3 linked regions of the Homo sapiens genome follow. The protein of the gene in region 1 interacts with the protein of each later gene in a pairwise test. Each region holds a gene or a part of one and is shown on either strand. Other genes may lie near its edges. The genes, in order: MYO1B, POGZ and SUOX.

Evidence for each region.
Region 2: the proteins of MYO1B (region 1) and POGZ interact in binary tests that used the Homo sapiens proteins (3 or more experiments, as listed by UniProt).
Region 3: the proteins of MYO1B (region 1) and SUOX interact in binary tests that used the Homo sapiens proteins (3 or more experiments, as listed by UniProt).

What each region holds. Positions count from the first base shown.
Region 1 is NC_000002.12:191,239,014-191,249,859, reverse strand, and holds the start of MYO1B (unconventional myosin-Ib), read right to left. Parts: upstream 4,457-10,846; 5' UTR 4,234-4,456; intron 3,942-4,233; exon of another isoform or gene 3,685-3,941; intron 3,577-3,684; exon of another isoform or gene 3,493-3,576; intron 1,966-3,492; exon of another isoform or gene 1,903-1,965; coding exon of another isoform or gene 1,852-1,902; intron 1-1,851. UniProt on the Homo sapiens protein: Motor protein that may participate in process critical to neuronal development and function such as cell migration, neurite outgrowth and vesicular transport.
Region 2 is NC_000001.11:151,419,546-151,430,234, reverse strand, and holds part of POGZ (pogo transposable element with ZNF domain), read left to right. Parts: intron 1-523; coding exon 524-632; intron 633-1,821; coding exon 1,822-2,112; intron 2,113-2,193; coding exon 2,194-2,412; intron 2,413-5,173; coding exon 5,174-5,280; intron 5,281-5,948; coding exon 5,949-6,286; intron 6,287-6,683; coding exon 6,684-6,838; intron 6,839-10,689. UniProt on the Homo sapiens protein: Plays a role in mitotic cell cycle progression and is involved in kinetochore assembly and mitotic sister chromatid cohesion.
Region 3 is NC_000012.12:56,000,276-56,009,714, reverse strand, and holds the end of SUOX (sulfite oxidase, mitochondrial), read right to left. Parts: intron 7,504-9,439; 5' UTR 7,494-7,503; coding exon 7,444-7,493; intron 7,173-7,443; coding exon 6,995-7,172; intron 6,098-6,994; coding exon 4,688-6,097; 3' UTR 4,190-4,687; downstream 1-4,189. UniProt on the Homo sapiens protein: Catalyzes the oxidation of sulfite to sulfate, the terminal reaction in the oxidative degradation of sulfur-containing amino acids.

The sequences.
Region 1 (10,846 bases):
AAAAGTCTAAAATAGCCAGTGGAGGAGAATTTCATAGCCTGAGGAGACTAAAGTTACTCTCACCTATACCACAGAACTTGAAGACCCCAAATGGTGTCCTAGCTTGAAATAAATAAACAAGGCAGAACTTCCAGTCTTCAAATTCTTATCTTAGAAACAACAACAACAACAAAAACCTAATATTGACTTTTCCATTTGCCCAGGAGCATTCTGAGGAATCCACAAACAATCCATGATGCCAAGTGTTAAACTCCAGTCTGCTCCTGTACTTGGTGTCAAAGTCTGGTACCTCTTGCCCAGTGCCACTCTCAGTGCCACCCTAAGGACAGATACCACTGCTATTCCCTTTTCATGCAGATGCCTAAACTAGTTCACTTCCCCTGTGGGGAAGGGATGAGCACAAAAATCATGTGGAATGAGTGTTCCCACAGAGCTCAGAAATTTGATGATCTCAGAGGATACTGTAAAGAAAGACCCTTGACACTTCCCTAAGGAAGAATGCCTTCTGTAAAAGGCTACTGCCAGGACAAAAAGCATGTGCTGGGAAAAATCTATGGCCTGCTGCTGCGAGTGTTTCCAATTCTGATGTCCCACTTCCTCTTTATAAGCACATTCCTTCCCTCCTTATTTCTCTTCTTAAAAAGACACTCTGGCATCGGGTCTCAGTTAAGAAGCAAAGTGCAATGTTCTATTAAAGGCTGTAAGATAAAAAGGGCTTAAAATGGATTTCAATAAACATAAAAGCCTTGAGTGCAATATAAGATCTACTCTGTTCTACCACTTTTAAATGTTTCGAAAAAAGAACTTATTTTTAAATGTTGGCAACCTAACTTTTTAAAAGTAAAGTTTCATTCACTTACAGCTTATTCATACAGGCCATAACATACAGCTCTTTAGCAATACAGTTCTAAGAGTTGTAATGTCCTAACCTGGGCTTCCAAACCTATCTCACAGTGGTTTTTGGAAGAATCAACTACAATAATAGACGTGAAAGTAATTTGACATCTGCCAGGGGCTAACCAACTAGATAATCAAACTGTTGTTATTATTAAAATACATCATACCATACAGTATATACCTAAAGAGTATGGACTTTGGGATCCCCAATCGCACTTCCACCACTTAGTAGTTAGCTACACAAGCACAGAGGGTCCTCAATTTACAATGGTTCAACTTAGGATTTTTTTACTCTATAATGGTGCAAAAATGATAGGCATTCAGTGGAAATCATACTTAGAATTTTGAATTGTGATGTTTTCTGGGGCTAGCCACATGTAGTACGATACCCCATCACAATGCTGGGCAGTGGCAGCGAGCCGCAGCTCCCAGTCAGCTACACCATCACAAGGATGAACAACCAATACTCTACAGTGGACTGTGTTACCAGACGATTTTGCCCAACTGTAGGCTAATGTGACTGTTCTGGACACATTTAAGGTTCGGTAGATTAAGTGTATTAAATGCATTTTCAACTTACAATATTTTCAACTTATGATGGGTTTATCAGGACATAACCCCATTGTAAATCTAGGAGCATCTGTACGGTGTAAGGGGCAAGTTACTTAACTCCTCCAGGCCTCAGTTTCCACTGGAAAATGAAGATAACACCCACTTTATCAAGTTGTTGTGATGATGAATATAGTAATGTATGTAAAATTCTTGGCATGTAATGAACACATACTAAATGATAGCTATAATTATTGTTAGGCTATTTAATTAAAATCCAAATGTTCAGCTATTGAAAACAGTAGAAGGGAGGTAGAAGACAATCTTACCCAAAGGAGGACAAATGCTAAAAACATGGATGCTACATGCTGAAGATCCCTTCTTAGCCAAACACCACCCACTCACCTCACTCCCTCTTCTTCCCCATGATGTCAGACGTTCCTCCTTGCTTTGCATAACTGTGCAGCAATCAGGGTAAGTTAGTCTTTAACTCCAGGCTTGACAAAGTGATGATTCATCCTGGGAAGGGGATACAGCCTGTTGCCAGCCTTATCACACAATCAGGCATCCACCAGAACGGCCAGAGGCCAGAGACCAGAGACCAGCCACTTAGGATTCTGCTATCTGTCCACATCTCCAGTAGCAGCAATGTTCAGATGCTTTACATTTTGTTAATGTATAGAACAATGAGTACTTGAGAGGAATTCAATCGTGTTGTATTTTATAAAACAATTCACAGCATAAGTGAAAAGTCCAAAATGGTAAGACAACAACAACAAAAAGTCTCCCTCTGTTAGCTGCCCTAGCACAACGTTTTGCCAGGCAGTGTGTTAGTTCTAATGACAAACAGCTTGACAGTTGGACACCATCCCATTTCAACTTCACATCATAATGGCTCCTGAGGACAACTCCCAGTGCTTTTCAGCCTGGCCTGAAAATTTGACCACATCCCCCACGAAAAAGACAAACCCTCAGCAGTAGCTTATACAGCTCTTTTCCATTACCACTTAGTGGGCAGGAGATATTTTTTTCCCCCACAGCAAGCTCCTAATTAGCCTTCTAAGGTTAAGAGGCTTTCAAACTTGGTTCATCTCAAAATAAATGGCCAAAGGGGTGGTTTAATGGCGGACCCTCAGCTTGTCAAAGAGGCAGCTCTGGGCCACTTCCCAGCCCTGTCTGCAGCCAGACTACTACAACAGAATGTCTCCTAAATTATCACCACAGTAATGCTAACCTTCAGTCCGACTTTGGGAATCCTCCCACCAGTGTCCCACAGGCACAAACCATGAATGCCTGGAAATGTCAGCCTCCTCCCAAAACAGTTTTGCTTGGAATACCCCATTCAAAAAACACACATCATTCAATCCCCCATAGCTCCCTCCCTAGGTCAGCCAATCCTTTGGCGAGTCTCGATTCCAATCTAGGAAAGGTCACTTAACAAATGTCTGACACATTACATTTAATTCTACCACCTCTAAACGATCCTCACACAGAGAGTGAAAGCACAGAACACTTCAATGCCAGGGCTCCTCAGTTCAAACCCCAAACGCTGGTGTGTGTGGTGTGTTTCCTGGGACAGACTGTAAAAGGGTTTTTCAATTGTGTTACATAGTCTGATTCATTTATTTATAGCAATGTCTAATTTTCTGGTGGTTTCTGCCCTCAAACAGTCCTGGAAAACTGTTGTACTATATTATACTATAAAACAATTTTACGTCAAAATTGATTCTATAAAATTTGTCTCCTACCCATTCCAGCCAATATCCACTAGCTACACACACAGACCCAGAGGCACACACATACACACCAATACCATAGTTCATAGCAAAATTTTTTCAAATCTCAAAAAAAAAGGGGGGGGGGCTTCTTTCACTGTAACTAAGAAGATTTGCTTTGAGCAATCTAACATTGGGAACGCCTAGAAACTCAAGAAGCACACAACTTGTTGCAGCAATAAACGCTGGGCCGAAGCCTGAACAAAGCACTACAAATAAGCTCTAGAAACTCACATGGCCCTTGAACAAAATGTTGTGTGTTTGTAGTTACCTCTCCAGCGCGCTCTCATCACCCTCTCCCAACCCTCTCCCCAACTCTCTTCCCGGCCCCACCACCCTTCGTAGCTCCCGTCTCTAATCTGGTTTCCATTCCAGCCCCGCCCCCTTCCCCTTCCCTCTCTGGGACCGTGAATCAATCCCATCCCGGGCAGGAAACGAGACCCAGGGCAACCCCCTCCGCTGCGGCGGAACAAAGGAGGCGAGCGCAGCTGCACGCGCAGGGAGGCCCACAGCGTCCCGGGCCCCTCCTCCCCCGCCGCCGCCGGGGCACACCGCACCTGAACCCCACTCCCCAGGACGCCCCATTGTTCTCCCTCCGCTTTCCTGCCCGGAGGAAGCCACACCGTGTCTTTCCAGGGGGCCAGGAAACAGCTGTGGGCCAGAGGAATGGAGGGGCTGTGGGTGAACACGAGGACAGCCGAGATTCGACTCTGCCCACAGGTACGAGAGGCATGGGGCAAAGTAAGAGCAACTTAGTTTACAAGCCCTTCTTCCCTCCCGCCACCCCCGAAGCCACTGCGGAGTCACGACCACCCTCCGCAACCTACAGCGTGCGCCGTTCCCGCCGCAGCGCCGCGTCTCCCAAGAGAGCGGCAGAGCCCGCTGACCCCCGCCCGCAGGGTGCGACGGGGCCAGGGACCGCGGGCACAAAGGCGCGGAGCAGGCGCCTCGGGGGCCGACGACGGACGCAGAGGGAAGGGCAGGGGAGAGAGAGAGAAAGCGCTCGCGCTACCTCGCCTGGCGCTACCTCGCCGGGCGCCACTCCGCCTCCACGTCGTCCTCGCTCTCCGGTGGCGCTCCGGGACGCGGGCCCAGCCCGGGGCTGCGGGGCTCCCGCCGCGGCTGTTCTGCCAAGGCTGTCCCGCGGCTGCCGGCCGACTGCGCGCCGCGCGCTCTGGTACTGCCTCCACGCGCCGCGGTTGAGGCTCCCGTGCGCACCCAGCTGCGGAGTGCTCAGCGGCGGCGGGAGGAGCCCGGCCACTCCCCTCTCGCCCGCTGGCGGAGGGGCCGGCCGAGGGGCGGGGGCGGCGACCTCGCTGCCTGGGATTCGCCCCTCGGCGCGCGGGCAGGAACGGGAGCCACCGCCTCCGAGCCGACTCACCTCTGTCCGCCCGGTGCCGGCTTCACAGCGCCCCCCGGTGAGCGTCGCGGCGGCCTCCGCGCCTTGCGGGTTTGCGGCCCGACCCTCCGCACCCGGGGCGAGCCTGGATGGGACGAGGCTTGAGGGAAGGAGGGGCGATCGTCGCGGCCCCCACGGAAGGCAGTCTTTCTACCTTTTTTGCTTCCAGACTCACTGACATAAAATGAGAAATACAACATTTGACAACTCGAAGCCAGCCTGGGGTCACATTCCGGCAAACAGTGGGAGTAAGTCTCAATTTTTCCTCCTCCCCAAGATGAAAATTTTTGGATGCCGAGAATATCAGAAAATATTAGTTTCACAGAAAAAGAAAAAAATTATACTGAGTGGTGTGGTGTGTCTTCATTTACAAGACTTTTAGTATCTTTTAAATTACTTAATCTCACATTGTGGGAAATAGACACTGGCCAATTCTTTGTGTTATAAATACATGAGAGGTAGTTTAAAAGAAATTTCAAATACCCATACGTATTTGAATAGAGTGTATTAACAGGTCCTGAGTAATGATCAGTGATGGGGTATATTATACAGGCATGTAGGGGCCAGAGAATCAGGACACCCCCCCTACACACACACACACACCTTCTCACTCAAGCCCTATTGCCTCATTGGAGAATTTAGAACAATCCTCTTGACCCAGGTCCTGGTTTCTTCATCCTCGCACAGGGAAGGGTGCGCATTCAAACTTACTCACTGGGTGAGATGAGGATTACTTGGCTGAGGTGTTAAAAGCACTGTAGACACAGTAATTATTACTCATGGTTCTAACTACTTTATCCTATAATGAAATAAATTGCCATAAATGGGCCAGGTTTAAATGGACTGACCTGTATCTGGAAACTGTCACTAAAGTGAGGTGAACCAAAGAATTCAGACCATATATAGTAACTGTTCCCACTGGCATAAGAACCACAGGCGCTGGGATTTGTTAAATGCCACTAGTAGAGTTTGGAAAGGTGGGACCTTCACAGACTATATCTGCTGGGAACTGTCTCATCATTGATGTCACCATCAGCATCACTTCAGATGTACAAGTGGTGTGATAATGGGCGAAACTAACACATACTGGGTACCAGGGACTGTTCTTTGTTTAATCCTCACAAAAAGCTCTGAGGTAAGTTTCTCTCATTATCCTTGTTTTACAGACCAGCAAAGCCAAGGACAGAGAGGTCTTCAGGGAATACATGGCTATGGTGGTTTGAAGACTCCCATTAGAGAGTGGATATTAATTGCCCTCCTTTTGAATATGGTCTGGACTTAGTGATTTGATTGTAACAAATAGAATACAGCAGATGTGATGCTATGTGACTTCCAAACCTAGGTCATAAAAGGAGATGAAGTTTTCACCTGGCTCTCCCTTGGGACACTCACCCTTGGAACCCAGCTGCCATATTGTGAGGAAGCTCAAGCCACAGGGAAGGCCATGTGTAGGTGTTTGGGCTGATGGTGCCAGCTGAGGACCTGGTCTACTGCCAGTACAACTTATATCAAGCATGTGAGTTGGCGAGCTTTTGAAAGAACTCCAGCCACAGTCACTGACCACGCTGCCTGAGAGACCTAGAGAGAAAACCTAGCTGAGCCAAATCAGGCCCCGGAAACGTAAGTGATAATAATAAAAGATTGTCATCTGGGTGGTTGTTACATAGCAATAGACACCTAGAACAGTGACAGAGCTGGAATTTGAACCCAGATAGTCTGACTCTATAGTCTTCACTATCAAGCACACTACCTCAGACCTTGATAACCTAGCATAATGAAAACCCTGGAGATCCCAGCCTTCACAATAGGCAACATATGAACCTGCTACCTGGTGACGTGTGTTAGACTCACTTCTCCATTTTGCTTGTCTGAGTTTAGGTTCCCAAGTGACTGCTTATAGCAGTTTGGCAGTTCATGGAACTTCTGACCTCTACTGTCCAGTTCAGCTTTTCAAAAATAGCAGAAATGCAGATGGCAGGTTCATGAATATAAGATGTATACAAATTGAAGAGTGGGGGAATTCTATAAACTTTTGATCTTGGAAGGTGGCCAGATTTTAGAAAAAGTAGGTTTGAGACAACTATGTGCTGAGTAGGTCTATCAAAATAGCTAGCTACTAGAAGTAAAGTTTTGAAACTCCTGACTCAAGAAAGGGATAGGACACAGTTATGTCAGAACAGTTCGGCCTCTAGAAGGACCTCGCATAGTGAGGACAATTAAGACTTTCTCCATGATTTTAGCAAGTTCAAAAAAGAAAATAATAGAAACTGTAGAACTTATCCTAATAAACACTAAGAAAATGAACCAAGTTATTAGCCAAAAATATTTCTAGAGAAAAATCATGCTTCTCTTTTAAAAATACTGTTTACCTAGTTTTCATAAATCTCAAAACCCAAGTTTCTGAGGACATACAGGTTTTAAAACACTTTTACCTTCCTGGCCATTTTTTTCAAAAACCAATCAATCAACAACTTTTGAAATTATAAAAAGCAGATTAAAGTTATTCCCACAATTGTCAAGAATAGATAATAGGCTGGGCGCAGTGGCTCACACCTGTAATCCCAGCACTTTGGGAGGCTGTGGCAGGCGGATCATGACGTCAGGAGTTCGAGACCAGCCTGGCCAATATGGTGAAATCCCATCTCTACTAAAAATACAAAAATTAGCCAGGCGTGGTGGCACGCTCCTGTAGTCCCAGCTACTCAGGAGGCTGAGGCAGAAGAATCACTTGAACCCAGGAGGTGGAGGTTGCAGTGAGCCAAGATCACGCCAGTGTACTCCAGCCTGGGTGACAGAGCGAGAGTCCATCTCAAAAAAAAAAAAAAAAAAGAATAGATAATAAATCCATCAACTACAAAGGCATTTTTTACTTTCTCCTCAATCTATTTGGAGGAAACAGAAAGAAATAAAAAGAAGTAGAAAACTATTATTGAGATTTAGGGTGAAAAACATAAATTATCAAATTACAAGAGTGCAATAAAAGAATACAAGAAGTGTGCTTTGCCTCAATGGAAACATGCAACAATTTAAATTCATTCAATTGAAATCTTGCCATCCTTGTGGAAAATACAGAAGTAAAAGCATATCTCTATGTATCCCAGGAAGGTAATTACCACTAGGCATGTAAGACTTATTTTTTCTTAGTTGGTTTTACTTGAGCCCTTTCAAGAAAATTAAAAGGAGTTCAACATTGACAAGAAGACTGACGAAAGAACCATATGACTGCCTTTTGGTGTAGCAAACATAAAAGTGGACTGGAAGTCATACTTTTAGATTTTCTCACTGGCTCTGTCTTCATTCAACTAAGTTTATGAAGCGGCTCATACTGTTTGTCCTTAGGTATTTTACATCATGTTGAATGTGTTAAAGACTCTATCTTTAAAATTCTCAGTCTTTGTTTTTGCTATATTTTGTCTCTCATCTACCCACCCAAACAGTTTTCACCTGCTTTACTTATCTTTTTTTAAAAAATAAAATAAAGACAGGATCTCGCTCTGTCACCCAGGCTGGAGTGCAGTGGCACAATCACAGCTCACTGTAACCTTGAACTCTTGAACTCAAACAATCCTCCCACAATCCTCCTGCCTCAGCTTCCCAAGCAGCCGGGACTACAGGTGCATGTTACCATACCCGACTAATTTCTTTGTATTTTTTGTAGAGATAGGAGTCCCACTATTGTTCCCCAGGCTGGCCTTGAGCCCCTGGCCTCAAGTGATACTCCTGTCTTGGCCTCCCAAAGCACTAGGATCACAGGTGTGGGTCACTATTCCCAGGCATTACTTATCCTTTCAAACTAAATTCGGTTTTCACCTATTCCTGACCATCATCTTGAATTAGATTCTGCTTTCTTTCGTATGGTAGCATCTGAATGCCACATCCTCTCAGTACCTATTAATTTGCCCCAGGTCATGAAATCTTTTTATTCATCCTCTTCTGGATGTTTGACTTCTCCAACTAGATAGTAGGCCTCGAGATAAAACTAGTCAATCAGTTCGAAAACACCAGGACTGAGATAACATCAGTTTTAGAGAGCTGACTATCCTAGGAAATATTCTAAATGCTCTACATATGTGTTAACTCGTTGAAGCTGCACAGCAGCCCAACGAGGTAGGTTATATTATAATCCCATTTTAGAGATGGTGAAGCTGAGGCAGGCAACTTACGCTGAGTGTGGCTGCCTCTCCTGCCTCCTTTCCACCTCCTCCACCTCTTCCACCTCTGCTACCCCTGAGACAGCAAGACCCACTCCTCCTTTTCCTCCTCCTCTTCAGCCTACTCAGCATGAAGAGGATGAGGATGAAGACTTTGATGATCCATTTCCACTTAATGAGTAGCAAATATATTTTCTCTTATGATTTTCTTAATAACATTTCCTTTTTCTCTAACTTACTTTTTTTGTAAGAATACAATATATGATACAATATAAAATATGTGTTAATAGACCATTTATGTTATCCATAAGGCTGATATGTCAACAGTAGGCTATTACTAGTTAAATTTTGGGGAGTCAAAAGTTATACGTGAATTTTTGACTACATGGAGGGTCAGCGTCCCTAATCTCCAAGTTGTTCAAGGGTCAAGTGTACTGTATTATTTCTTTAGCATATGTCTCTTAGTTTAGGATAGTCCTCCAAATGCAGTAAGCACTGAGTTAGCTATTTCTTAAATAGCTTCATACAAAATAAAATATTTTAAAATATATTTAAAGAGTGCTTTAAAAATAAGTGCTTCATGTTTAAAGTATTATTTGAAATTCAGATTAGGTATTACAAAAAAAAATGTTTCTATAGCATTGTCGGTGTCCAAAACTCAATGGTAAAAACACAACTCTTATTCTAAGTATTTAACAAACTATAGATAAATTACATCAAGAATATTTGAAGGTAAAAAGACCGATGGAACTTATCCCAGGCAGGGAGAAAATTTACTAAAGCTATTTGAGGATAAAAAGAGTAATTTGAAAAGCTCACAAATAGGGTCCCTTTTAGGTACTGTACTAGACTATTTGAAAATCAAAAACAATTCTTTATTTTAAAAAAATGTAATTTGAGCACTAAAATCAGGCAGTGAAAAAGTATAATTTTTCTCCACAAAATGCATTTCTCTACAGCTCAGAGTACTCTGAGCCACAAATAAATTATAGACCCATTGCCAGGAAATTTAAATTGCCTAAATTTTTTCCCTTGACATTTTATAATTTAGCATTCTGTCATTTCAACTAGTAAAATAGTTGTCTCTTATTTCTTCTCATGCTACAGCAGGTTAGTACTATGATGGCAAAACCTAGCTGTGAAACAATAAATCAATCTGAAAAATGGCTAGACTTTTTCCCAATCTTTTTAAAAAATCATTTTCATTTTTCTAATGATAACTGGGGAGCTGTCACCTCATTGCTGGGGAGACCCTAGGAGTACTGCAAGGAAAAGCAAATATTATGGCAAAGGAAAAAAAATATTGGCCACCTATACCAAATGAAAAGTAATTTAGCAAACATATGACGTAATAGTCTGTTTCTGCTTCAGTCCCTAAAACTAAATCCATATATTTGATCTGGTGCATACATTCATCACAGGTGTTAGCATATGAAAATGCTGTAGAGAAAGATAATTGTGTGTAACTCAAAAATATCCTATTGTATTAACAACCAAAATGGCATAACTCTAGGTTTAGGGACCATTGACAGAATAAACCAAAATTTAAATTAGAAATATAAGCAAAAGGTTAGTTGCCCATTATTTCAGCTGCATTCTCAATCTTGACATCTGTACGACATGAGAAACTCCATGAGGGTGGAGTTTGGTTCACTATTGTGTTCTCAGAGCCTAAGAACATAGAAAGTACTCAATAGTGTTAGATTGAGGAACTAATTTCATGAGTTATTATTATGTTAGGTAAATCAAGTTAGCCTATAATCTCTGCCAAGAATTTCAGATATCTCATTAAAGACTTTCCAGAGCGCAAGGTAGGACAAAAGCAGTTCTTGCTGATGGAGTTGCAGGAATGATGTTCTTAAACTTTGAATAAAGCTGGAAAAAGTTTATAGAGAGTAGCACCAAAGCACAGCCCATCTCATGCAGAGGAAGACTCATACCATGGAGGTCAGGGTGTTGACAAGCAACCCAACTCCCCAAGACAAGCATGGCCTTTGCTAAATAAAGATGCCTGCATAATCCTTCCCATTAGACACATGCTATACTCTGGGTATTTTTCCTGAAACCCATTCATG
Region 2 (10,689 bases), on another chromosome or scaffold:
TTGAATTGAAGTTGAAAGCCTAATTCTGAATATGGATTCTAAAGGCAAATGCTTCTCTTTGCCTGTGGCTTCCTGAGTTGTAAATTCTTATGAATTTGCCAAAGGTTTATGGCCTTTGAAGTAGACTTTGGGAACAATTTTTTAGGATTGTTTGTATGTTGAATCACTCCAGTGAACATTGCTCTTCCCCCTGCCCCCCACCCCCACTTCTGTTCATTTAGCACTTTAGGGAGCCAGTCTGTTGATGAGGTTTTTTTAAGCCGATGCTCTCTTAAGTCAGGAAATAGGTTTTCATTTTTGCTCATGTGTACCAAAGCTTGTTCTCTAATTTTGATATTTTGTCTCTCAAAAGTTTGCCAGAATTTCCTAAATTTTTCCCTCTCAGTCATTTGAAACCTCTAATTCTAGAGAAAGAACCATTAAGTAAGAGTATGGGAATTTTTTTTTGGATGTAGGTCATACTGCAATCTTTGTCAGTGTTAATTGGTCTCCATGTTAAAGATCATTTTGCTTTTTAATACAGGGATTTCCTGTAAGGAATGTCCGGCCTGTACAAAATGCAATGAATCAGGTTGGGATTGTGCTGAACGTACAGCAAGGCCAAACGGTTAGACCAATTACACTAGTTCCAGGTAAGGAAAAATGTCTATCCATTTGGAATAAACTGGCATCCAGAAGATTTGTTTTTATTGTTCTAAATATCCTAAGTCATTTAGTAAGTACATTTAAAGAAAATCTAAAAATATAAAAATATTAATGATTTAAGCCCAATTTTAAAAAATCTGCTTCTAACCTTTGGCCAGGGTGGTGGTTTTATTTATTTCTGTTTAGCTTTTCACCACCCTTCATCAAGTAGTAAAACAGAGTTTACAGTCATTTTTCTGTAACTGGTATTTAGTCAGCTATTAAGACTATGTTATTAATGCAAACTCATAAATTCTACACTCCTTACACATCTCCTCATTTGCACGGTGGGATTATAAACTTTGTTTTAATTTTATAGCATAGATTTTAGATATAAACAAATGACATTCCTTTTATGGATAAATACTGTCAATGACTAGATAGTTTTTTTTTTTAAGATTCTGCTAGATAGTTTTTTTTTTTTTTAAGATTCTGAGAAGGATAATTTTTTTAAAATCTTAGAATTTTCCATTGCTCTATTTAGCATGTATAAGTTTACTACAATTCAGACCAAAAAAGAGTATCTTAATTTAGCTATTTGTAAGGGTACCTCTGTAGCTTGTCTTCCTAAGGTTTTGTTTTTTGTTCTCGTAGCCCATAGGGGTTTAAGTCTGACCAGCTTACCCTGGCATTTCTTTATTTTTCTCAGTGGAATTGTCTACAGTTGAGCCAGGAGACATTCCTCTTTGGGACATCCTAGTAGAATGGCATAGTCTGTCTTCTGAGTTGATAGAAGAGGATGGAAGACTCCTTTAGTACTCTGAGAAAGACTGATTTCTTTTTTCAGGACCAGGTTTGCCATTTGGCCTATATACACCCATATTGCTTCCCACTCTTTTCTTCCAGTACCGAGGTCAAGCCACTGATTGTATTCTTAGAATTAAAAAGGCAGTGTGATAAGGTGTTTTAGGAGGAGTTGATGGGAGTCTTATTTAACTTAATGTTTTTAGGCTGCCCAGGTTATTTTGTCAACATGGACACCTTGTGCTTTCTTAGTCTTTAGAATCTATACTCCTCTTGGAAACCTCTGATGATCATCCATCAGTTTGGGGAAATAATCTTTCCAGTAAAGGCAGGGAGAATGTGTTATAGGTGAGCTCACTGACCAAGATCTGGTACTTTGTCTCTCTTTTAAAGCCCCAGGTACCCAGTTTGTTAAGCCGACAGTTGGAGTTCCACAAGTGTTCTCCCAGATGACCCCTGTGAGGCCAGGCTCCACAATGCCTGTGAGGCCCACCACCAACACCTTCACCACCGTCATCCCGGCCACTCTTACCATTCGAAGCACCGTCCCACAGTCCCAGTCCCAGCAGACCAAGTCCACTCCCAGCACTTCTACCACTCCCACTGCCACACAGCCAACCTCACTGGGGCAACTAGCTGTTCAGTCTCCAGGCCAGTCAAACCAGACCACGAATCCCAAGCTAGGTAAGGCTTCGGAAGAGGAGATGGCAGAGCCAGGTTGGGATGGTGGGTGGAGAACAGATGATTATCACTTGGTCACCGTAGCTCCCTCCTTCCCCTCTCCACCTGCAGTGAGCATTGCCAGCTTTGTCACTGTGAAGCGACCTGGTGTTACAGGCGAAAATAGCAATGAAGTGGCCAAATTGGTGAATACCCTTAACACCATCCCTTCCCTGGGCCAGAGTCCTGGGCCAGTGGTGGTGTCCAACAACAGCTCTGCTCATGGCTCTCAAAGAACCAGCGGACCTGAGTCTTCAATGAAAGGTACAATAACCTGAAAGACTCTGAGCAGCCAGTCATTCAAAAACATTAATAAAGTGTTTGTTGTATCAGAGCTTTATACTCAGAAATAGAAAAATAAAATAAAATACAGCTGCTGTAGTTTGTTCTTACAGAAACTTTAGTAAGGAGAAAGCCACTTACAAAAAGTGTAACTGAATCAGCTCCAAGAAATTATGTGTGTAATTGTGCTTTGGAGATTAGTGAAATTGATTGATTAAAGATGGGTGAGATAATGAAAGATAACTTCATGGAAGAGATGGATTTCTGAGCAAGGTTTTAAAGTTAGGATTTGGTAGAGAGATCTTCAGGTTGAGAATGATGAGCATGAGGGTTTTCAGTGGTCTAGAGCAGGGGTCGGCAAATGTTTTCTGTAAAGGGCCTAGTAGTAAAGTTGTAGGCTTTGTGCACAATATATAGCCTCTGTTGCAGCTATTAACTGTGCTGTTGTGGTGGGGAAGCAGCCACAGATACATAAACGAATGAGCATGGCTGTGCTCCACTAAAAACTATTTATGGACTCTGAAATTTAAGTTTCATAAAATTTTCATGTGTCGAAAAGTTTTATTCTTTTATTTCAACCATTTAAAAATAAAAACCGCAAGGTATAGTGGCTCACACCTCATCCCAGCATTATGGGAGGCCAAGACGGGAGGATCACTTGAGCCTAGGAGTTTGAGACCAGCCTGGGCAACATGGTGAGATCCCATCTCTACAAAAAAAAAAAAAAAAAAGATTAGCCAGGCGTGGTGGTGTATGTCTGCAGTCCTCGCTACTCAGAAGTCTGAGGTGAGAGGATGGCTTGGGCTTGAACCCAGAAGGTTGAGCCTGCAGTGAGCCATGAGCATGCCACTGCAACAGAACGACACCCTGTCTCAAAAAAAGTAAAAACCTTTAAAACATGGTGTTGGGAAAACTAGATATCCATGTCCAAAAGAAGTTGGATCTTACCTTACAATAAATACAAAAATTAACTCAAAATGGATCAAAGACCTAAATGAACTAAAACTATAAGACTCTTAGAAAAATTATAGGACAAAAAGCTTCATGATACTGGATTTGACAGTGATTACTATTTCTTGGATATGACACCAAAAGCATACGCAAGAAAAGAAAAAATGAGTAAATTAAATTATATCAAAATTTAAAACTTTTGTGCAGGACGTTGTCAACACAGTGAAAAGGGAAGCCACAGAATGGGAGAAAATATTTGCAAATTATGTATCTAATAAGGGGTTAATATCCAGAATATATAAAGAATTTGTGCAGTTCAACAACAAAAAAACTCCCAAACAACCTTTTTAAAAAATAGACAAAGGACTCGCTGGTCGTGGTGGTTCATGCCTGTAATCCCAGCACTTTGAGAGGCCAAGGCAGGTGGATCACGAGGTCAGGAGTCCAAGACCAGCCTGACCAATAATGGTGAAACCCCGTCTATACTAAAAATACAAAAATTAGCCAGGCGTGGTGGTGTGTGCCTGTATTCCCAGCTGCTCGGGAGGCTGAGACACAAGAATTGCTTGAACCTGGAAGGCAGAGGTTGTGGTGAGTCGAGATTGTGCCACTGCACTCCAGTCTGGGCAACAGAGAAAGACCCCATCTCAAAAAAAAAAAAAAAAGTAGGAAAGTAGGCAAAGGACTGAATAGACCTTTCTCCAAAGAAAGTTATTGCCAATAAGCTCATGAAAAGGTGCTCAGTGTTATTAATCATTATGGAAATGCAAATCAAAACCACAATGAGGTACCGTCTCACTCCCATTAGGATGGCTACTATCAAAGAACCATAAAATAACAAATATTGTTGAGGATGTGGAGAAAGCAGAACCCTTACGCACTGTTGGTGGAAATGTAAAATTATGCAGCCACTTTGGAAACAGTATGGTGGTTCCTCAAAAAGTTAAAAATGATAGAATTGTTGTATGCTCCAGGAATTCCATTCTATACCCAAAAGAATTGAAAGCAGGGACTAGAACAGGTATTTGTACACCTATGTTCATTGCAACATTATTCACAATAGCTGAAAGGTGAAAGCAACACAGAGGTCCATCAACTGATAAAGGGATAAATAAAATGTGGTATTCACATACAATGGTATATTGTTCAGGCTTAAGAAAGGAAATTCTGCTACAACATGTGCTGCAACATGGTTGAACCTTGAGGACATTATGTTAAAGTGAAATAGGCTAGTCACAAAAGGACAAGTACCATATGATTCCACTTACTTGAGGTACCTAGAGTAGTCAAATTCATAGAGACAAAGTTGAATTGTGGTTGCCGGGGTGGAGGCGAGGGGAGAATGGTGAGGAGGTTTTTATTGGATATAGCTTCAGTTCTGCAAGATTAAAAAAAACAAAAACCTTAACAAAAAAATCACATACAAATTATTCTTAGCTTATGGGCCAAACAGAAACTGGTAGCTGGGCTGGATTTGATCTGTGTGCTGTGGTTTGCTGACCCCTGGCCTAGAGTTAGAACAGTAAAAGGAAGCCTCAAACATAGTGATCTTGAGCCCAGGGAGGTCAAGGCTGCAGTGAGCTGTGGTCGTGCCACTGCACTCCAGCCTGGGCAACAGACTGAGAGACCGTGTCTCAAAAAAAACAAAAACAAACAAAAACCATAGTGATCTCTCATGCTTGCTTACCCTTTTATATACTTCTCAGGGAGTGTTTGACTTTTTCCCAAAAGGTCAGTAATCTTTTTCCAGTGTCATTGTATTAATCTTATCAATTCTTCTCACTTCTTTCAGTGACCTCTTCCATCCCAGTATTTGACCTCCAGGATGGTGGACGGAAAATATGTCCACGATGTAATGCTCAATTTCGTGTTACTGAAGCTTTGAGAGGTCACATGTGTGTAAGTGATATCACCTGTGATCCAGCTTAAGTGGCTTCTGCCATTTACCTTCATTAATATTGGAAGCTTGTAAGCAGGGGCTCTAAAATGACTGAAGCTTTTTAAAGGGTTACTGTTTCTCTTGGTCTGTTTTTAGAAGAGCTGTGTACTTTGGAATGTGATGGGATACATTTAAAGACCCTCAAATAGATCAGAACATATGTGATCTTACTTTCTTAGTGTGGTAGATTTTGAAACCACACAGGAGAACAGGTTTATAGATAATAAGGACTCAAACCATATTGGCCTCAGTTCATTTTTGTTAATTGTGTCATTGGATGAATCGGGAGCTCTTACTTCCATTTTTTAGCTTTTCATTTTTTGGTATTAGTCCAGATAAAAAGGTTGGAACTTCTTCTTTGCCAGGGAGCTCAGAGCCAAGTTATACTAATGATTAAGGGACCTAAGACAGGCAGGAGGGAGAAATACAAAGTATAGCGCTTGGGTGGCATATGTGGATATACTCTAGAAAAGGAGTAAAACTTGGAAACGCTAAAAAAAACTGAAGGGTGAAAGCTGAATGAGAATACCTGAAACCAAACCGTTAACAAGGAATGGTAGTGAAGTTAAGGAGTTAGCACATTCTAGCCCCCAGGATAACCAGAATGATCAGATGTCTTTCTTTATAGTACTGTTGCCCAGAAATGGTTGAATACCAGAAGAAAGGAAAGTCCCTGGATTCAGAACCCAGTGTCCCATCAGCAGCAAAGCCCCCATCCCCTGAGAAAACAGCTCCTGTTGCTTCCACACCCTCTTCTACACCTATTCCTGCTCTGTCACCGCCTACCAAAGTACCAGAACCAAATGAGAACGTGGGCGATGCCGTCCAGACCAAACTCATTATGCTTGTAGATGACTTCTACTATGGACGGGATGGTGGCAAAGTAGCCCAGCTCACAAATTTCCCTAAGGTCGCCACATCTTTCCGATGCCCACATTGTACCAAAAGGCTAAAAAACAATATTCGGTAAGTGTTTAAGAGCCTTGGAAGTTACCTTGAACAAGAGAAGACTTACATTTTCTTATATATTTTAAGTCTTTCTCTTTGGAGAATGGACCTAACTACTATGCAGTCTTGCTGGGGTTATCATTAAATCAATAACTAGGACTATAGAAGGAGATATTGTGGTAATAAACAAAAGGTAACTGGATCGAGTAAGGGAAAGCAGTATGTCTCCTTTCCCAGAACTCTCTTAGTTTCAAGAACTCATTATCTTTCTGGGCTCAGAAAAGGATATCCCAAACAGGAAGTCTGGGGAATGGAGGGGAGCAGATAATGTTTGTTCTGTGATTTTACCATTATATTTCTAAAAGGCTACCAATTTTTTATGTTTTCTGTACTTTCTCTTTGTGCTTTATTACAGATTCATGAACCATATGAAACACCACGTAGAACTCGATCAGCAGAACGGTGAGGTAGATGGTCACACTATCTGCCAGCACTGTTACCGCCAGTTTTCCACTCCCTTCCAGCTTCAGTGCCACTTGGAAAATGTTCATAGTCCCTATGAATCTACTAGTAAGTTTGGAAACTCTTAAACTCAAGGGGAATATACCTTGCTGTTCACTCATTGAATGGCGCTGGGGGGAGCCCATTATATTTATTTACATGTGGGTAACAGTGTAGAGGAAGTACTTTTCATATTTGTAGCCAGTTCTTTACTTCATTCACCTTGTTTTTTTTTACAAGCCTGACTTTTATTTTGTTCAAGCATGGATTGAGTTCAGTGTTAGATCCTGAATTGTTAGGGGCGTTGATTCAGAACCACTGTAGAAAAACAAATGTAATTAATTTATTTCTTAGGTCTCTTTATAGAAGGAACAGTCATCTATTTGCTCTTCCACTTTAGTTAAACCCTGATAGGTTTTATGTAGGCTAAAAGATAATATTGTGAAGTACTTTATCATTAAGACATTGCTTTCAATGAAATATAAGATGAGCTGGAGTGTTTTCTACACTGTATATTTTATACATGTAGGCTGGACATAAGCTCAAAGAAATTAAGTAGGATAAAAGATAATATGGCCGGGCACGGTGGCTCACGCCTGTAATCCCAACACTTTGGGAGGCCGAAGCAGGCAGATCACCTGAAGTCAGGAATTCGAGACCAGCCCGGCCAACATGGCGAAGCCCCATCTCTACTAAAAATGCAAAAATTAGCTGGGTGTGGTGGCGGGCACCTGTAATCCCAGCTACTCGGGAGGCTGAGACAGGAGAATCGCTTGAACCCGGGAGGCGGAGGTTGCAGTGAGCTGAGATCATGCCATTGCACTCCAGTCTGGGCAACAAGAGCAAAACTCCATCTCCAAAAAAAAAAAGATAATATTATGAAGTACTTTATCATTAAGACAGTGCTTTCAGTGAAATATAAGGTAAGCTGGAATGTTTTTCTACACTGTACATTTTATAGATAGATGTAGGCTGAACATAAGCTCAAAGAAATTGAGTCATTTGCTTATGAGCGTACACCTCTAAATACACCTCTACTGGGGATACATAGTGAGGATTTAAGCCCAGTATTGAGAATACTTCTCATGTCCTTTACGGGATTTCCAGTTTTGTTGTAAAGACAAAAATTATGTAAATATAGGAAAATGTGAGAACAAGATAGTATATTATAAACATAGACATTTTAAGATATCATTGATAGGTGAAATACTTCAGAGAAGGGAAAAAATCCTTGTGGCTAGGTTTCCAAGAAAGTCGTGCTTAAATTTAAGAAAGGTTTAGATGGATGGAGAGTAGTAAGAAAAGCTTTTAGGTGATTGAAAACAGCATGATCAAAAGCATAGAAGACATATGCATATTATCTGGATGCATTTGCTACAAGTAAAAATCCTTAACTAAAAATGAATTAAACAATAAGGACTGGGTGTGGTGGCTCACACCTGTAATCCCAGCACTTTGGGAGGCTTAGGTGGGTGGATCAGTTGAGGCCAGGGGAGACCAGTCTGGCCAACATGGCAAAACCACATCTCTACTAAAAATACAAAAATTCGCTGGCTGTGGTGGTGTGCGCAGGTAATCCCAACTACTCAGGAAGCCAAGGCATGAGAATCACTTGATCCCAGGAGGTAGAGGTTGCAGTGAGCTGAGATCGCACCACTGCACTCCAGCCTGGATGACAGAGCGAGTCTCTGTCTCAAAACAAAAGAAAACAATAAGAATATCTGTTATATCATTTAACTGAGAGATACAGAAATGGATGCTTCAGCCTAGAATTTGACTGCCCTGCTGGTTTTCAACAATTCTCTTGTCTCTGGCTCATAGCAGGGTGGCTGTATAAGTGTCAGGCACTATGTCCAGATAAAAAATTGTTAGACAAAGAAGAGATCTTATCTTCCCATCTTTCTTTCTTGAATCTGTTTTCTTATGAGTGAGAATTGCTTTCCTTTTATATCTCTTTGACCATTTATTGGCAAGGGAAGTGGGATTGACATTAATGGCTTACAGTAACACTAGGCAGTAGAAATACGCAAGCTTCATGAGTAATTTTAATTTTTTTCACTTTAAATACAGTAGCGCTCCCTTATCCTCAATTTTTCTTTCTTGAATCTGTTTTCTTATGAGTGAGAATTGCTTTCCTTTTATATCTCTGACCATTTATTGGCAAGGGAAGTGGGATTGACATTAATGGCTTACAGTAACACTAGGCAGTAGAAATATGCAAGCTTCATGAGTAATTTTAATTTTTTTCACTTTAAATACAGTAGCGCTCCCTTATCCTCAATTTTAGTCTCAATCACAGTCCAAAACTAGGTGAGTGCAGTACAATAAGATTATTGAGAGAGACACCACATTCACATAACTTTTATTACAGTATATTGTTATAATTATCCTTTTATATATTATATATTTTTAATTGTTAATCTCTTTGCCTAATTTATAAATTAAACTTTATCATAGGTATATATATATATATATATGAAAAAACACGGTATGTATAGGGTTCAATACTATCTGAGGTTTCATGTATGCACTGGGGGTCTTGGAACGTATATTTCCCATTGGCAAAGGGCGTCTACTGTAAAGTTTAAAAAAACAGGCAAAATTAATTTTAACAGCATATTTTATTCAGTATATTAAAAATATTTCAACATGAACTCAAAATTTAAAATTAATGAGATATTCGTCATTCTTTTTTCCTCCATTAAAAAACAGATCTTTTGAAATACAAATCTAAATTGGGTTTGAGCTTACCACATTTTAAGTGTTCACTAGATACATGTTGCTGGTGCCACCATATTAGACAGTGAAACTTTGGACTAATCATTTGGGAGTAGAATGTATATTAGAATCAACCGGGCCAGGTGCAGTGGTTCACACCTGTAATCTCAGCACTTTGAGAGGCCGAGGCAGGCAGATTGAGCTTAGGAGTTCAAGACCAGCCTGGGCAGCATGGAGAAACCCCGTCTCTACAAAAAAAATACAAAAATTGGGTGTGGTGGCGCACGCCTATAGTCGTAGCTACTCAGGAGGTAGAGGTGGGAGGATTGCTTGAGCCCAGTAGGTCAAGGCTAGAGTGAACCATGATCACGCCACTGCACTCCAGCTTGGATAACAGAGCAAGACTCTGTCTCAAAAAACAAAGAATCAATGGTAACACTGCAGTGTAGTGCCAGGGTAGCCAGCTTGGTCTAGAATAGGACTCACGATTCTTCACTGTCAGTAATGTGAAGCCAGAGTAACTCATCCATACCTCTTAGTGAAAACACCAGTTTTTTGAGACAACAGGGTCTTGCTCTGCCACCCAGGCTGGGGTGCAGTGACGCAATCTTAGCTCACTGCAGCCTCGAACCCCTGGGCTCAAGCAGTCCTCCCACCTCAGCCTCCTGAGTAGCTGGGACTGTAGGCATATGCCACCACACCCAGCTAATTTATTCCTTTTCTTGGGGGTAGAGACAGGGTCTTGCTGTGTTGCCCAGTCTGGGCACCTAACTCATTTTTACGCGTAATATGGGGGGTGGGTTTTGTTATTCCGAAGTTCCACAAATAATAAAATTACACAGAGGGAAGATAAGTTTTTCCTTATGGAAAAGAAACAATGTAGACCCTCATTGATCTTTTTTCTCTTGGTTTCCCTGACTTAATTTTTGAGTCTCTTATGACAAGATTTTATGCTTACCAAAATCACCTTTCCTTAGCATATATCAATTTTATTCTTGCAGTCTTTCGTAATTTCCTTTTTTGCACCCTTGACAGATCTGGCATGAAAGTAGTTTTTTTTTTTTTTTTTTTTTTTTTTTGAGACAGGGTCTCACTCTGTTAGCCAAGCTGGAGTGCAGTGGCACAATCTTGGCTTACTGCAATCTCCACTTCCCAGGCTAAGATGATCCTCCCAACTCAGCCTCCTGAATAGCTGGTACTAC
Region 3 (9,439 bases), on another chromosome or scaffold:
TCAACTTCTATTGACTAGGGCAAGGTATAATTCTGAAGCTGCCAAAATGAGGGCAGCTCTCACCATTCTGAAGCCCACCCCAGAAGCTCCAGTGAAACTTCTCTTGCTTCCCAATGGTAAAGCTATTTTCTTCTTTTAAGATTTTATTTTTATCTCAGGAGCTACTCATCTGACTGTTCTCATGACCCAAGGGTCTGTCTGGATTCTCTGGCTTTAGGCTGTTAGTAGGGAAAGCTGAAGTCCTCCTGCAAACCATAAAGCAAGATTCACGGACCTACTGGCAGGTCCATGGGGAGGTGAGGGATTACCATACACCCCAACCAAACGAAACACTATGCTTTCAAAGATTGTCTGATTTGGCCTTTTATCTGGCCTTGTCCTCAGAATCTGAGTTATCGTTAAGTGGAAATATTCTAGGTAGTCAGATAACATTTTCATGCTTCCTTAAGGATATGAACATGTATCTTCACCCAGGCAAAGTGAGCAAGTATCAGTAAGGGGAGACAGGCTTCAATGGTCATCTGGTTGACCATGACGTTGGAACATCTAAAGCTGACATGTGAGCATGTCAGGAACATACCATGCCCACCATTGATGCTTCGAGGGCACAGGCTGGGGAGACAGGCACAGTAGGAACTATTAGACATATAAGCGAGGGTTGACAAGAGTAACAACAATAGACAGTTTTGTTCATGAGAGAAGGGAATGGGGCGAAATAAGGTATGCAAAAAATTTTCTGGCCAGGCACGGTGGCTCATGCCTGTAATCCCAGCACTTTGGGAGGCTGAGGCGGGTGGATCACCTGAGGTCAGGAGTTCAAGACCAGCCTGGCCAACATGGTGAGACCCCCATCTCTACTAAAAATACAAAAAATTAGCCAGGGGTGGTGGCGGGTGCCTGTAATCCCAGCTACTTGGGAGGCTGAGGCAGGAGAATCTCTTGAACCTGGGAGATGGAGGTTGCAGTGAGCTGAGGTCGCGCCATTGCACCCCAGCCTGGGCAACAAGAGTGAAACTCCGTCTCAAAAAAAAAAAAAAAAAAAATTTCCTGGAAGCAGAGTTCGTAACTTCTTGACCTTGGATGGGGATTGGGGTACAATATTTCATAAGCATATCGAAAGGTCCACGTTCCATTAAACACTCCACTGTTCCCAGAAAGGACTAGTCATAATTTTTTTTAAAGGCACAGAAATAATATAGAAAATTTAAAAAGTGAGAACCTACAACTCTAGCAGCCATGAGGTAAGAAAATAACGGGATGGGGTTTGTGTGAGGAGGTACAGGGAGGGCTGTTTTGGTACACAGGAGCAGGCAGCCTGCTTCCCAAGTTTGCAGCTCCCGTCTGGATGTCTGCCCTGGGGATTCCTCTGTTGCATTTCTTTCTTAGGGCTCTCAAGCAGTGAATCTCTTCTTTCCCAGCCTTGCTTCCCAAGTTCCCTACACCTCTCACCCTACACTGTGCACTTCTCACTCCATCCTAAGTTTCTTCTCTACATGTTTCTCCCAATATGCTCATTGCCTCCCAGATCTCACCTAGGCCTACGTCTTTATCCCCAGATTCCTGTCTTCAGCATTCCTCGACCCAACACCCGGGTCCCTCGCTTTTTTTGTTCAGATACCCTCTTTGCTGCTCCTTTCTCCTCGCTGTCCTTCTGCTGTATACCCAAGCCACATCCCCACGGAGGAGCCCCGCGCCTGGCAGCTCCTGCCTGTCCTCGGCCCCTTGCCTTGATCTGTCTCCCGCCTTTTTAGGACCCCCGAGTCCCTGCTACCTCGCTCTTAATACTGGGGCCTCGGGCCAAACTCCCCCGGCCATCTTCCAACCCTCCGGCCCCAGCCCAACCCGCGACCCTCTCTCAGCCTGGCCCCTTCCCCCGCCCACGTCTCCCCCCTCCTTCACGCCAGAGCCCCTCAGGCCCCGCCCCCGGCTACCGAGGCCCCGCCCCCGCTTTACCCCCACCAAGCCCCGCCCCTCACTCACCTGAGGTGTCTCCGCGCGCGCGCAGGCTGTGAGGGGTTGGGGAGAGGGGACAGTGTTGGGGGAGAGGGAGGCGAGGGGGCGGGGGTCCCCCACTCTGGCCCGGGCGGCCCAGTGCGGGGGGAGTGGGGTCACTGAGGCGGCGGCAGTCGCCGGGCCGGAGCCAGGACCCGGGCGCTCAGAGGCGGCGGTGGCGGCGGCTCCATCTCCATCAGCAGCTTCACCTGAGAAGGGACTTGCCCCCCCAAATATCCCCCCCCATCACAGCCGTCCCCCTCCCCCTAACAACTTCCGGTCCCACTACCAGGCGACAGGCGGCGTGGCCGAACACCGAGCGTCCCCAAGCCCGGGAGACTGCTGGGGGAAAATGGGAGAGGAGCTAGGGGAGAGTAGCCGAGCGCCGAAAGATTCAAATCCGAAAGGCACCATCGTCTGCCGAAGGTAACCCAAAAACTAGCCTTTAATCTGCACCCAGTTTGCAATCTAAGCACACGCTGGACGCCCGATGTGGCCTGGCACGTCAGGCCCTAGAGCCAAGTTTTCCCTCTGTACCTTGTGAATCCCAAAAATCTGAGACAGGTCTCAGTTTAGGAAGTTTTTGGCAAAACTTAATTTTGCCAAAGTTAGGGACGCACGCCCGTAACGCAGCCTCAGGAGGTCCTGACGACATGTGCCCTAGGTGACTGGAGCACAGCTTGGTGTTATACATTTTAGGGAGACAAGAGACATCAATCAATATATGTAAAGGCGGGACAACTCAAGCTGGGAGGAGGCTTCCAGGTCATAGGTAGATAAGAGGTAAATGGAGCGGGGCGCAGTGGCTCACGCCTGTAATCCCAGCACTTTGGGAGGCCGAGGCGGGCGGATCACCTGAGGTCAGGAGTTCAAGACCAGCCTGGCCAACATGGTGAAACCCCATCTCTACTAAAAATAAAAAATTAGCCGGGTGTGGTGGCCCGCGCCTGTAGTCCCAGCTACTTGGGAGGCTGAGGCAGGAGAATCGCTTGAACCCGGGAGGCGGAGGTTGCAGTGAGCCGAGATCGCACCACTGCACTCCAGCCTGAGCAATAGAGTGAGACTTCATCTCAAAAAAAAAAAAAAAAAAAAAAAAAAGCCGGGCTTGGTGGCTCACGCCTGTAATCCTAGCACTTTGGGAGGCCGAGGCAGACGTACTGCCTGAGCTCAGGAGTTCGAGACCAGCCTGGGCAACATGGTGAAACCCATCTCTACTAAAATACAAAAGAAATTAGCCGGGCGTGGCGGTGTGCGCCTGTCGTCCCAGCTACCTGGGAGGCTGAGACAGAATTGCTTGAACTCCGGAGACGGAGGTTGCAGTGAGCGGAGATCGTGCCACCGCACTCCTGCACTCCAGTCTGGGTGACAGAGCAAGACTCTGTCTCTACAAAAAAAAAAAAAAAAAAAGAGGCAAATGGTTGTATTCCACTCAAAGAAGGCAATCAGGTATGCATTTATCTCAGTGAGCAGAGGGATGACTTTGAATGGGAGGCAGGTTTACCCTAATCAGTTCCCAGCTTGACTTTTCCCTTTAGCTTAGTGATTCTGGGGCCTCAAGATTTATTTTGCTTTCACGACCTCCTAAGACAATATTGATTTTAAACTCCTAGCACCCTTTGCCTTTCCTGCCAAGTGCATTGGAACTGTTGGGGAAAGGAGTTGGAGGGTACATGTTTTTGTCACCTCTCCTCTCTTCATGGTATCCTGAGGTCAATCACCTAGGTGTCCCTGCAGATACTGCCAAACCTCAGAGAAGGAAGCCCCCCTTTTTTTGAGACAGAATCTCGCTTTGTCGCACAGGCTGGGGTGTAGTGGGTGTGATCTCGGCTCACTGCAACCTCTGCCTCCTTGGTTCAAGCGATTCTCCTGCCTCAGCCTCCCAAGTAGCTGGGATTACAGGCACCCACCACCACACCCAGCTAATTTTTGTATTTTTGGTAGAGACTGGGTTTTGCCATGTTGGCCAGGCTGGTCTCGAACTCCTGACCTCAAGTGATCCACCTGCCTTGGCCTCCCAAGTGCTGGGATTACAGGCGTGAGCCACTGTGCTCAGCCGGAAGCCCTACTTCTTAACCTACAAGCCTACTTCCTCTCTGTCTTCCTCCCCAGTTTTGTTTGTTTTGGTCTAATCTCATTATACATCCCAGTACAAATGCATCCTTCCTCCTGCAATAGGCTCACTCCCCAGGCCCAAGAGTTATGATCTTAAACAGACTATTTATTAGAAAAGTAGAACTATAAAGGGAGACGGTTGTGCCCCTTGCTCTCCTCGCAACTCTCTGGCAACCTGGAGAGGTAGTATAAGATAGTATATACACTTTTCTTACACATGCCACACACATTTCTCTGAACAATCCAAAAAGAAAAGCAAAACAAGGCCTTGATGGCAGTAGGCATTAGAAATGGAGGTGGGGTAGGAAGAGAAAATAGTGCTTGTCTCCAGAATTACTTTTTTCACTTCTAGCCCCTTGCTGTAACAGCTCACACTTCCTGGCACAGGTTCAAAGGCCAAGAGGGGTATGTAACATAGTGTCCAAAGAGGGAAGGTCCTTGGGTGAAATGTGCTATATGTGTACTTGGGTATGGCTTAGGAAGGCCAGAGTTGTGATCCAAGAAGTTGAAAGGTGGGAAAGATTTTTCTGAAGCAGTGAGGCTAATGGGTGGGGAAAGGGGTGGAGGTGGCTCCTTTCCATGCTCATGGGGAGACATAGACATGGACACGATGCCAGGCATTGCTGAGAACACCTCGCAGGTTCCAGATTGGGGCCACGGTGTCTGGCTGCACATTGTAACCATCATCCACAGCCTTACAAACAATGTTCAGTTCCTTTTGTCCAGCTGGCACAGGGGCTTTCAACTGCCACAGACGCCATGCCCAGGCCTTCCTGGGGCGCTGTTCCTCTCCATCCAGCTTAGCCACCTGCCAGGTTAGGCCCCCATCCAGAGACACATCCACCCGGATCACAGCCCTGCCACCACCACTCCATGCATAGCCCTTGATGGTCACCTCCCCTGATTCTACAGTCTCTCCATCCCGGGGCTCTGTGATGGCCGACTGGACAGGAAGTTCCTGAATGGATGGAGCAGAGTCAAAATCTACAGTCTCCCAGTCCACAGATGGAGAGAAGCCTTTGTAATCCCGCCGTTGCCAGTGGCTGTAACTTTCCTCTGGCTGCACACTCACTCTGCCCAGCCATTTGACATGGCGGGCACCCACCACTCCAGGAACCACCACACGCACAGGGAAGCCGTGGTCACGTGGCAGAGGCTGCCCATTCATCTCATATGCCAGCAGGACCTCAGCTTCAGGGTCCATGGCCCGAGCCAGAGGGATGGATGCTCCATAGGCAGTCCCAGTAGGGTCTGAGTCCAGTCCCTCAAAGCAGACGTGGGCCTCAGTTTCACAGAGTTGGTGGCCAGCCTGGGCTAACACATCACAGAGCCGTGCCCCAGCCCAGCGTGCAGTGCTGATGGCTCCTGTTCTCCACTCCAGACCTTTTACTTCTTTGACCTGAGTCATCTCAGAGCGTCGGTTGCCGGCACACTGCAGAGTGACTGTGATCTCGTACCTGGGAAAGTTGTGCAAGTCATCCAGGGAAAGAGACAGTGACTGACCCCCAGGTGCTCCTACTACGTGTAAGCGATAGGTGTCTGGATCCAGGTTAGGTACAGGCAGATGGTTCCGGGTGAAGAAGATAGGGTTGGGTGTGATGTAGTTTTCTGTCAGCAGCTCAGGGGGAGGCTCTGCATTAAAGGGCCGCTGGCTGTTGACCTTCAGGGCTGGGTGACGTACAGGATCATCAGCATAAGGGTCAGAGGTCTCCACGGTGGGGGCTACCTTGTCTTCAGGATTCAGCTCCCCAATCTTGTACTGAGCCAGTAACTCACGCACATGGGACTGGTTGTGAACAGCATAGAGGGCCCAGAAGGGCTCTAGGGGACCCCCAGCTGCTAGCATCAGCTTTGAAGGCCCCCCTGGATGTAGGTCCACAAATTCTGTGACATCAAAGACCTCAGAGCCCAGAGTCACCCAGATCCCAGTCTCAGGGCTGGTGTGGGAACTCACTTCCTCCTTAGTGTATATGTGTGTTGACTCCTGAGCAGCCTATTGGCAGGGAAGGAGTAAGATAAAAGGGAAGAGACTATTAAGAAGAAATCACTTGGTCGGGCGTGGTGACTCACAACTGTAATCCCAGCACTTTGGGAGGCCGAGGTGGGCGGATCACATAAGGTCGGGAGTTCAAGACCAGCTTGACCAACATGGAGAAGCCCTGTCTCTACTAAAAATACAAAATTAGCTGGGCATGGTGGTGCATGCCTGTAATCCCAGCTACTTGGGAGGCTGAGGCAGGAGAATCACTTGAACCCGGGAGGTGGAGGTTGTGGTGAGCTGAGATCATGCCATTGCACTCCAGCCTGGGCAACAAGAGTGAAACTCCATCTCAAAAAAAAAAAAAAGAAAAAATGAAGAAGAATAAGAAGAAATCACTTGAGCTCACCCTGACCCAACCCACGGTGTTGGCCACTGGGAAGCGAAGGTAGCAGATTAGCAGATTTCATCTCCACTGTGCATGAAGACTGCGTCACTGTGAACTCTGTGGTAACTACAAGAACATGGGTCACAGCCTGGGTTGCCTGTGGAGTTTACTAGGACTGATTCCTTTATTCTGACAATTTTTTTTTTTTTTTTGAGATGGAGTCTCACTCTGTCACCCAGGCTGGAGAGCAGTGGCCTGATCTTGATCTTGGCTCACTGCAGACTTAGCCTCCTGGGTTTAAGTGATTCTTGTGTCTCAGCCTCTCAAGTAGCTGAGATTACAGGTATGTACCACCACACCTGGCTAATTTTTACTAGAGATGGGGTTTTGCCATGTTGCCCAGGCTGGTCTCAAACTCCTAACCTCAAGTGACCCACCCACCTTGGCCTCCTATAGTGCTGGGATAACAGGCGTGAGCCACTGCACCCAGTCTGTTCTGACAATGAAGCACTTTCCCTACTTACCCTACACCGATGGTCCTGATAGGCCAACACTGCACCGAGACCTAATAGGGTCCCCATGACTCTCCATCCCTGGGTGCTGGAGTTATCACCAGAGAAGGTGAGGCTGGGGCGCTGGGGCTGAAATGAATCATTTGTGGAGCAGGCCTGAATGCAGATCCTTGAGGGGATTGACTTGAGTCTGGAAGAGAGGTCGGTCTTAGTAGCACGTATGGTCATGTGAAAGGGCTAGTGAAGGCTTGGGGTCTACTTCTTTCTCCCTGGTTGGCCATTGGTTCCTTAAGTTGGAACTTAGTTTCTCCAGGGATAGGTGGGAAAAGTGGGATCTGGCTTTCTCTGTCCTCCCTGGACACACTCTCTCAACTGTCTTATTTGCAAGGTATGACATTGTAAAAGACACTAAGGGTGGCAGATAGGGGCTAGGAGGCAAGTCCTGGGATGGGCTGGCCTACCTGCAGGCCTGTTGGAGCCTGAGGACCACAGCTCTGTGCAGCAGCAGCATTGTAGCAGACCTGTAGAAGGAAGATTCTGGGATCAAGATAGGGAGACCCTGGGAGGGGATATTAGGGAGGCCTAAGGGAATGGGTGAGAGGAAGACACAGAGAAGGTCAGCAAGGAGCTTTCTGGGCAAGTGAGGAGTCTTGAGAGTGGGAGTCCAAATGGGCCCTTAGAGAAAACTTGGAGCACTTCAGAGACAGACTGTGCTGACAGGATGGCAGGTAATGCGGGTGGGGAATGGGGTAGGAGGGATGGGTGCTTCTAGAATCAGAATCACCTTTCTCCCATCTTCCATTCTGAACTTTGTCCACCATAGAGAACGATGCCTGGGGCGAAGGGCCTAAAGGACCGAAACCAAATGTCTACTGGCCAGATTATTATTTCTGAAGTCAGCAGAGGACAACTGTGGGTCAGACTGACTTAAACAGGGATAAAAAAGTGAAAAAAAAGTAGTGACAGCCTAAATGGGTGAAGAAGCCCAGATTCTGGGGGCAAAATGCCTTGGGTTTGTGAAACTGGATCTCTTGTTATTCATTAACCAGCCCGATTTCCTGAGCAAGATTCCAAGCCGTTCTGAACTTGCTTCCTCATCTCTGAAATGACATCTGCCTAGCAGAGCTAACATGAAGAGCCAACAAGTACAGTAGTACCCCCTTATCCACTGGGGATATGTTCTACGACCCCCAGTAGATGTTTGAAACCACAGATTGCACCAAACCCTATATTACTGTTTTTTCCCCCATACATACATACCTCTTATAGTTTAATTACTAAATTACCCACAGTAAGAGATTAACAACAATGCCCGGCGCAGTGGCTCACGTCTGTAATCCCAGCACTTTGGGAGGCTGAGGCGGGCAAATCACCTGAGGTCAGGAGTTTGAGACCAGCCTGGCCAAAATGGGGAAAACCTGTCTCTACAAAAATTCAAAAATAAGCCAGGCATGGTGACACGTGCCTGTAACCCCAGCTACTCGGGAGGCTGAGGCAGGAGAATCACCTGAACCTGGGAGGTGGAGGTTGCAGTGAGCTGAGATCACGCCACTGCTCTCCAGTCTGGGCAACAGAGAGAGACTCCATCTCAAAAAAAAAAAAAAAAAAAAAAAAGAGAGATTAACAACAATAACAAAATAGAAAAATTAGCCCGGCGCAGTGGCTTACGCCTGTAATCCCAGCACTTTGGGAGGCTGAGACGGGCAGATCACGATGTCAGGAGATCGAAACCATCCTGGCTAACGCGGCGAAACCTCATCTCTACTAAAAATAGAAAAAAAAAAATTAGCCGGGCTTGGCGGCGGGCGCCTGTAGTCCCTGCTACTCCGGAGACAGGAGAATGGCGTGAACCCAGGAGGCGGAGGTTGCAGTGAGCCGAGATCGCGCCACTGCACTCCAGCCTGGGCGACAGAGTGAGACTCCGTCTCAAACGTCTCAAAAAAAAAACAAAGAAAAAGAAAAAAATTATAACATTATACTGTAATAAAAGAGCTGGGTGTGGTGGCTCACCCTTATAATCCTAGTGAGAAGTGACATTGTGCTGGCAGTCCTCACAGCCCTTGCTCACTCTCGGTGCCTCCTCTGCCTGGGCTCCCACTTTGGCGGCACTTGAGGAGCCCTTCAGCTCGCCGCTGCACTGTGGGAGCCCCTTTCTGGGCTGGCCAAGGCCAGAGTCGGCTCCCTCAGCTTGCAGGGAGGTGTGGAGGGAGAGGTGCGAGCGGGAACCGGGGCTGAGCGCGGAGCTTGCGGGCCAGCTGGAGTTCCGGGTGGGCGTGGGCTTGGCAGGCCCCGCACACGGAGCAGCCGGCTGGCCCTGCCGGCCCCGGGCAATGAGGGGCTTACCACCTGGGCCAGCAGCTGCGGAGGGTGTACTGGGTCCCCCAGCAGTGCCGGCCCACCAGCGCTGCGCTCGATTTCTCGCCGGGCCTTAGCTGCCTCCCCGCGGGGCAGGGCTCG